2 separate regions of the Homo sapiens genome follow, and region 1 is linked to region 2. The links come from fine-mapping of genetic effects on gene expression. A gene starts in region 2. The other region holds a variant in brackets. All regions are shown on one strand. Distances are from middle to middle. Region 1 has its middle 11 kb from the start of SSTR3. Region 2 holds the start of CYTH4 (cytohesin 4).

What was found. PIP is the estimated chance that this variant, and not a neighbour inherited with it, causes the effect. A credible set is the group of variants that fine-mapping cannot tell apart.
Region 1: its variant is the best candidate, but not a certain one, in a credible set for the expression of CYTH4 in whole blood (TOPMed, PIP 0.55).

Annotation. Positions count from the first base shown.
Region 1 is chr22:37,220,795-37,225,180 of GRCh38, forward strand. No RefSeq gene overlaps it. Among named protein-coding and RNA genes, the nearest start is that of SSTR3, 11 kb to the left of the region's middle. RefSeq lists a silencer at 1,989-2,128. The variant T/C (reference allele first, on the strand shown) is at 1,803.
Region 2 is chr22:37,280,143-37,284,528 of GRCh38, forward strand. It overlaps CYTH4 (cytohesin 4), which reads left to right and starts at 2,366. Exons shown (of 13, transcript NM_013385.5): 1 at 2,366-2,446. The coding sequence starts at 2,428. RefSeq lists enhancers at 2,125-2,174, 3,721-3,770, 4,383-4,386.

The DNA.
Region 1 (4,386 bases), 59 kb before region 2:
AGAACAGCATGGAGGTAATCGTCCCCCTCCCCCATGGTTCAATTACCTCCCACTGGGTTCCTCCCACCTGGATTATGGGATTCAATTACCTCCCACTGGGTTCCTCCCTTGGGATTATGGGAACTACAATTCAAGAGGAGATTTGTGTTGGGACACAGCCAAACCAGATCACAGCCCTTGTGGCTGGAGCTTTGCAAGGAAAGGGAAGATAGTGCCAAGTGAGATCTGGAGGTAGAAACTGACAACATCCTATAGGCCTTGTAGGTGAGGGAGGAGGTTTCGTGCCAAATGTCCAGAGATACCACTGGACGGTGTTATACAAGGGAGTGGTCTGATCTGATTGGTAGTTTAACGCGATCACTCTGGCCACTCCGTGGAGATAAACCATGGCCAAGGGCAAGAGTGAAAACAAGAAGGCCAGTCAGGAGGTGTGAGCATTAGGATTGGTGCTCAGTTGGTGCTCAGCAAATATTTCCTTTCCTCCAAGTCTGGGAAGAGTTCCTGTCCCTGCCCCATTGGTGGTGTTGGGCTCGGCCATGTGAAGCATGAGCAGAGGCCTTAAACACCTCATGGTTTGGCTTGGCTTCTCATGCTCCTGTGATCCACAATGAGAAGGACATGCCCCAGGGAATGCTGGTCTAAGGAGGATGAGAGACAGGTGGAGCCGACCCACACACACCCACAGCCAGGACCGAGACCACCCATCCCCAGCCCGAAGCCAAGTCACCAGCCAAACCCTCCTAAGTCAGCAGACCCACTGTCCACCTACAACTAGTGAGTGTGAGAATACAGGCCTGCTGCTTCTTGCCTCTGGATTTCAAGGCAGTTTGGTTTGTTACACAGCATTATTGTACCAATTGCTGACTATGACAGGAGGCTACCACAGGGAGGATACAGTGCTGGTTTGGACATTAGAAACCATGACAATGCAGAGAAGGGGGTCACTGAGGAGATTGTCGGTGATGGGTTGGAAGTGGAAGGTGAGGGAGAAGGTGTCAAGGAGGACTCCCAGGTTTTTGATTTGAGAGCCTGGATGCATTTACTGAGTGATGAAGGCTGGGCGGGGCGTGTGAGTTTGAAATGCTCAGGAGACATCCAAGCAGAAGGGCCATTTCCTGGGGCTCTCTGCTGGCTGGACAGCCTCCCCACTGGCCTGTGAGCTCCTGAGAGCGGGCTCATGCTTGACCCACCCCCAAGCCTTGGGCTTGACACACGGTCTCAATAACTATTTGCTGAAGGATTCAATGATTGAATAAGTCTGTGGTTCTATCAGCATTTTTGACTGCACAGTTGTTTGTAAATGAGGAAAATCCCCAGGCCACCTGGTGGCAAATGGAGTAGAGGCAGAGAGAGGGAAGACAGGAGGCCAGTGAGGAGGCTGTGGCTACTGTCCAGGGGAGACATGGCAGGGGTTAGGTTAGGGAGCAGCCGTGGGGACAAGGGGTGGATTTAATAGACAGAGGCTGAATTGTCCAAGCTTGGTGGCCAGTGAATGCCAGGGTGAAAGGATCGGAGGAGTTTGGGGGACCCCAGGCCTCCGCTTTGAAGAAGGGACAAGGAACAGCCAGTCTCTAGAATAGAAAGCACCAGATGAAGTGGCCTTGTCTGGCAGGCACTTTCCTCAACCACCAGGCCATGATTTCATTGCAAGAAGGGGCGAAGTGAGGCATGGAACCTGCTGCCAGCCCAGGCCTGGCACTAGGTGGGCACTTGGGAGGGGTTGTTGTCACATGAAAGAGCAAACCATGGTGTCAGCTCCTGCCCACAACCGGCAGGTCTTCCTGTTTCAAAACAGGTTCTCA[T/C]TGACTTCCCATAAGCTTTCTCTTTCCTATATGAGGGGCCTCCATCCTCAGCCAATTTGCAGAGCAGAAACAAGTGGCTCACCCCACTTGGAGTGGCTGCTGGGAACAGTTATACAGTGGGAAGAGCACTGCGCTAGGAGTCCTACCGCTTCAGTGACAAATGCTGTCAGCTTACCGTAACAAAAGGTGTGACCAACGGTGACATTAACAATTGGGTGGTTTCATTTTCTTCAGTTCCCATAACAAGGCAGCTGTTAGCATTGGCTCAGCTGCCCACTGCTGCTGCCAGGAACTCACGCTCCTTTTATCTTTCTGCTCATCCCCTCTCAGCACGGGGCCTTGTATCTTCATGTTTGTGGCTTCAAGCTCACAAGACGGCTGCTGCAGCTCCAGACATCCCACCTGTCATTTTTTTTTTTTTTTTTTTTTTGAGTCTTGCTCTGTCACCCAGGCTGGAGTGCAGTGGCGCAATCTCGGCTCACTGCAAGCTCCGCCTCCCGGGTTCACACAATTCTCCTGCCTCAGCCTCCCGCATAGCTGGGACTACAGGCGCCCACCACCACACCCGGCTATTTTTTTGTATTTTTTAGTAGAGACGGGGTTTCACCGTGTTAGCCAGGATGATCTCGATCTCCTGACCTCGTGATCCGCCCACCTCAGCCTCCCAAAGTGCTGGGATTACAGGCGTGAGCCACCGCGCCCGGCCTGGGCCTGTCATTTTTTTAAGGAAGAAAACAACTTTCACAGAAGCCATCTCTCCCGCTGACTTTCATTCACATCGGCTTCTAGGCCAGAACTATGTGGCCTGAAAACCCCAGTGACAAAACCAGCTGGAAAAACGAGTATTTTGTTGGTGTTAGGTACGGTGCTGCTATGCACAAAACTAGGATTCTGTTAGCAAGGAGGATGGGAACAGAGGGAGAGGGTGGGAAAGGACAGCATCTGCCTTGTCAATTTGAGCCAAACCTGTGCCCTCCCGCATCCTCATCTCCTCTTCTGCAAACCGTGGCTAAGAGTACCTATCTTGGAAGGCTATTAGAACATTAAATGAGATAATATGTGCATGGGAGCCAAGACAATGAGTAAAGGAAGTTATTTACTGACATTATTATCATATAGAAGCAAAGATTGTCTCTACTGGGGTCGACCTAACGGGCTGAACACACATGGAAGGAGATCCGGGCCCACCTTTGCCCTGCAGGGAAGTTCCAGGAGCAAAGGAAAGGGGTCCAGTATGTTCAAAGGCCTGGAATGAAAGAAGCATGAATGTGGAGTGGAAGAAATGACAGTCCAGTCTGATGGTAGAGGCACGAGTGCAATAAGAGTGGGAGGCAGAGGATGGCCAGACCTTCAGGGCCATGGTTTGTTGCGGAGGCTCTGGAGTTTATCCCAAGGCTCTGTGAAGAGGAGGGATCAGAAAGAGGCTCCCTCAGACTCTGGCCAACCTCAGGGGGTGCCTCAGGGATCTTAGACATCGAACATACTAGGGAGTGGGGTCCTGGCCGCCTGCATCTGTATGGTGCCATGGATGGGTGGGGTTTAGTATTTCCTTTCTGTTTCAGAAGAGAAGTAACTTTGAAAACATCATGACTTTGAGCTGAAACTAAGAAAAGCAAAGGGGTTTCCCCTCTGCACCTAATCCCTTTTAAGGGGGGCTCCCAGGAGGTGAGTGAGCTGGAGGGGGTCCTGCCTCAGAACATGGGGACTAATGGGGATAGTGGGGTTGGCTGGGAGCTCTGGGAAAGCACAATGTGGAAACTCAAGCATTTCATGGGCTGGAAATTGGGGTCTTCTGGGTTGTCAGGGGCAGCCTCTTAGATCTCTTAGCCTCTCTAGAGTGTCAGCCTCCTGAGGGCAGGGACTTCTGAGCACTGCTGGATCCCTGGCACCTAGAACAGTGCCAGGCACAGAAGAGGTGCTCAATAAATGTGTGTTTGATGAATGAGTGAGAAGTTGAGATAGAGGAGAGTAATTGTCCGCAGGAGGGGGAGGTCTGGCACCTCCACAGAACTTAGCAAGTCCTGAGGTGGGACTGACTGTGCAGGCACTGTTGTGCCCATGTCGGAACTTCTTAAATCCTCACAACAACCCCGCCTCTCTTTTAAAGAAACTCCCCTTTGCTTATCACCTTCGGGGTCCAGCATTGTTTCATTTCACTGCTGAAATGAACACTTTCCCATGACCTCCAGTAGTGGAGGTTGAGGGTTTCTCGCCCAAATTCCCAAATTCCCGCCAGGCTCTCAGCCCACTTTGGAACTCACCCTCCCCCCCAGTACACACGCTTTCGCTGGGGTTGCCGCAGTTCTGTTCCAGCATGGCATATGGTCCATGCCTGGCCAGTCAGAGCACAGCACTGCACCACTCTGACAAATATGATTGGTTAAAAGGGGGCCCAGGACCTAAGCTGGTCCAATCACAGTAAATCTTAGTTAGAACTTTGCCTGGGATAGACATTTGCTCTTTTTGGCTGAACTTGAACTTGGAAGGATGAGGCCCTGAACTTGAACTTGGAAGGATGAAACCCTGAACTTGAACTTGGGAGGATGAAGCCCTAAGTCGCCTGCCTGAGAATGAACCAGCCAGC
Region 2 (4,386 bases):
GGGTCAACTTTGCAAGCATGACTTTCTAAAGATAGCAGTCTCCGGCCTGCAGTGTGAAGTCTTTCTGCACAGGGAATTATATATACCTTTCTCCATATTTCTAGGGGTTATTTTGTTTGTTTTGTTTTTTCTTTTGTTTTGTTTTTGGAGACGGAGTCTCACTCTGTTGCCAGGCTGGAGTGCAGTGGCGCGATCTCAGCTCACTGCAACCTCCGACTCTCTGGTTCAAGTGATTCTCCCGCTTCAGCCTCCCAAGTAGCTGGCATTATAGGCACCCGCCACCATGCCCAGCTAATTTTTGTATTTTTAGTATAGACGGGGTTTCACCACGTTGGCCAGGATGGTCTTGATCTCCTGACCTTGTGATCCACCCGCCTCGGCCTCCCAAAGTGCTGGGATTACAGGCATGAGCCACTATGCCCAGCCCACATTTCTAGTTTTAAAATGGCCAAGGGCATGGTTTGTGGTGCCTCAGGCCCAAAGCAGTTGAGAAAAATCTAGTTTACCATGGAAATAATTGTAACAAGTTTTCCAGAAAAGAACCATGAGTTATACAAGAACCCAGGTGGAGGCAGGGCAGGGGAGAAGCAGCGGGGTTCAAAAATCCTGAGCACACTAGACGGGGACTTAGTAGGCCTGGCTTCTGGGCCTGAATTGGCACTCACTCAAGTTCCAACTTGGTCAAGTGTTTCCCAGAAATAAGCCTCAGTTTTCTCTCCGAGGAAATGACAGCATTGGATTTCTTCTGTATCAGCAAGCTTTGGCTGCATAACAAAGCATCCCAGAAGTTGGTGGCTTAAACCACAAAAATGTATTATTTCCCACAGTGCTATGGGTCAGCAGTTTGGGTGGGACTCCGCTTGATGGTTCTTCTTCTGGTGTCCCCTGGCCTCACTGATGAGGCAGCAACCAGGGGACAGCCAAGACAGCCCAGCCTATCTCCTTGTGGTCCTCCGTCTTCCAACAGGCTAGCCCAGGCTTGTTCTCATGGTAGCCAGGCAGGGGGCTGAGAGCAAGAGCAGGAGCTGCAAGGCCTTTTAAAGCTCAGCCTCGAACATCACGGCACATCATTTCTGCCACGTGCTATTGGTCAAAGAGATGCCCAAGGCCAGCTCAGCTTCCAAGGAAGGAGAAATGGACTTCGCCCCTTGACAGCAGAAGCGGCGGCATAGTGAAAAGGAGGTGAACTTGTAGCTAGCTTTCACATCGGCCGTGATCTCTTCCATGTTCCCTTCATTCATTCATTCATTCATTCATTTGTTCATTCATTCCACACTTGCACACCCTCTATGTCCCCAGCATTTTACCACACACCAGAACACAAAAGGTAACCTTGCCCTCATGGGGCCTGGAGAGTAATGGGGAAACAGATGAATAACTCTGCATGTGTCCTGAAGTTATAGGGAATTCACATTTAATTTATACCTGTTTCTTTACAGCAAAGCTTTTTGCAGAAAGGATTTGAACCAACCTGCCAGAAAAGGCACAAGGAATAACATGATACATTTTAACCAAAGAAGATAATTAAAATCAAAGGAGAAAGTGTTTATTGAGCACCTACTATGTCCCAAGCATCTCCGACACATCCTCTCACTCCATGGTTTCCATATCCCCGAGTTAGTGTTATTCCCCTTTCAGAGATAAGCAAAGCGAGGCTGACTAGCCCTAGCTGAGAGTCAAACAGCTGAGTCAGGCCCCAAAGTTCACATGACATCATAGAATAGCTGTCGATGAGCTTTGGATTTGACGATGAGTTTCCCAGCAGCCTGGGGGAGAAGGAAAGTGGAACATATTACCCGATTGTTCACTAGACAAGAAAAAGCCAGATATTTCTTTGAAGGGAAGCAAAGCCCTTCCTAGCAGTGAATTCATTTGTCTCTTCTCAAGTGGGAGTTGGAAGAGAGCTTGTGGGGTGGAACACAGGGGGCCCTGCTAGGACTGTCCAAGTTGGGCGCTCCTATGGCATATATGTGAGGAGGCTGCCACGTGAATGCCCATGGTCCCCTGGAAAATGTTCGTCCTCAGTGAACATCGCCCTCGGTGTCTGTGCATGTGTACGTGTGTATGTGCATATGTGTCTGTGTGTTTCTTTCTGTCTCACTGTCTTTCTCTTTTTTATCTGGCCCTCCCCTCACTTCATCTGTTTGTTTGTTTGTTTGTTTGTTTGTTTCCACCTCTGTCCCTCCCTGGCAAAAGTCCCTGCTGCTCAAAACTCTGCCAGTTTTTAGGAAGTGCTGTTTTGTCAAAAGCCTGCACACGAGACCCCCGTGGGCCAGGACTGACTTCCTCCCCACACAGGGCTGGGCGGGGCAAGCAGGAAGGAGCCTGTTACAGTCAAGGTGACGCATCCTTGCCGGGCCAGCCCGAACAGCAGCTGGGTCGGCAAGCGACAGGAGCACGGGTCATCTTTTCCCCAGAGGCGTCGGAATGGACCTGTGCCACCCAGGTAAGCAACTGCCGTCAACCTCTCTGGGCCTCAGGGTGCTCTCTTTTAGAATGGGACAGCAGCCCCTGCCTCACAGGGTCCTAGATAAAGGAATACAGCGCAGGTGGGAAATGCAGCTGCAAGAAGCAAACATTTGTGGGCTCAGCCTGTGTGTCCAGTTGCGTTCTAGGGGCTGGACACACAGCAGTAGCAAAGCAGACGCTGTTTCCCCCTTCATAGGCTTGTGCTCTAGATGAGGAGACCGGCAGTGACTCTAATGTGATTCCATATGTCAGTTGATGGCAGGTAGGATGAAGAACAGTAAAGCAGGGTAAGGAAGACAGGAATGCATGGTGGAAAAGGCCCCAAGAGGAGATGCTGTCTGATGAGGGACCTGAGGAAGATGTCAGCTAAGGGGCTTTCTAAGGAACAAACATTCCAGCCAGAAGGAACAGCCAGTCCAAAGGCTCAGAGGTGGACTCAGAAAAGTGACTTGCGATTAAGATGATGATGGGATGTTGGTGATGGCGATGCTTGTCTGGGTGATACAAGGGCCTTGAGGCCCCTTTTTGGCCCCCGGGGGTTGGGGTGGTCTTTGGGGAGGCTGAGGACGCTGCCTAGAGCCAGGGGAGGGCCAGGAGTGAGCAACAGAGGCTCTGGTTGAAACCCTCCCCAGCTACTAAGACAATGTGTCTGGGGAGAAAGAGGAGAAAGGAGGCTGCAAAGATGGTGAGGAAAAGAACATCAGGGTCGTGTTTTGGGAGGCAAATTGAAGGCCCGGTAGAGGGGCCAAGTTTCTGCACCCTGGATGTCAGCATGCTCCAGAGCTGCAACAGTTCTGGTGAACACGGCTGCTGGAATTCCAGAACCTAAGGGCTCGTGGGAGCTGTCTGCTCCCCAGGTCCAGATGACCTCAGCCTTGTCCAGGAGCACCCTTGCTTCAAACGCACCTAATGTGGAGCAGCCTGGCCCCGCCCACTGGGCATCCCCCTTCCTCCCCACCCCCAGATGGAAGCCTCGGGCCCCAGGGAACCCAGAGAACCACTGATCCATTTCAACAGCCCCCCCAGTGGCAGAAGGGAGAAAAGAGGCCAAGGGAGGAAAACAGCCTCTCTAAGGCAGGAGCAGGACCAAATCCTGTTCCCTGAATCCCTATCCAGGGCTCACTCTGACCCCTGCCTCTCCCATGGGCTTTGGGGGCTCCCAAAATCACAGCTCAGTGAGCACAGCTTGGGGGCACCTGGTTGGCACAGGGAGACCCAGCGAAGGGCAGCACCTGGCTCAGGCCTCTCAGCAGACATGAGGGTGGGATGAGGGGGGGAGGGCACCCACCGAGATGCAACCCCCCTGCCTGTGTGTCCAGCAGGGCGCTTTGTCCTTTCGGGTCCTAACATACTGAGGTTACAGGGATGGCTGTCTCCATGTTGCAGATAAGGAAACTGAGGCTCCCAGAGGTGAACTAGAGACGGGGACTGACTTGCTTGAGGTCACACGGCCAGTCAGCAGCAGAGCAGGGACGAGAACCTGCGGGAGAGAGCCCCAGGTTGGCCGGGGCTATGGAGAGGGCAGGGGAGGGGAGTCTCTGCTTTGCTTCAGCCGGTACTAGGGAGGAAATGGATTAAATGGGGTCAATGGGTTCTCCATCGAGTAGTTGGTCTTTTCATTCATTCACTCTACAAACGACCTTCCAGTGTGCTATGCAGTGCTGGGGACAGCAGTGACCCAGCCATGGGCCTAACCCTGGGGGACAGGTGTTGGTCTGGAATGTTGGGGGTGGGGTGGAGAGGCAGGAGCCACATCCTGCAGGACCCTGACCCAGCTGTGCAAATGGACACAGACCTACAGATGGGAGGAAGCAACTTTTCCCACTGGGGCAGAGGAGATCTGGGAAGACCTCCTTGAGGAGGAGGCCAGAGGGAGGGAGAAAAGGTCATTTCCCTGTTGCCCAGACTGGGTCTTAA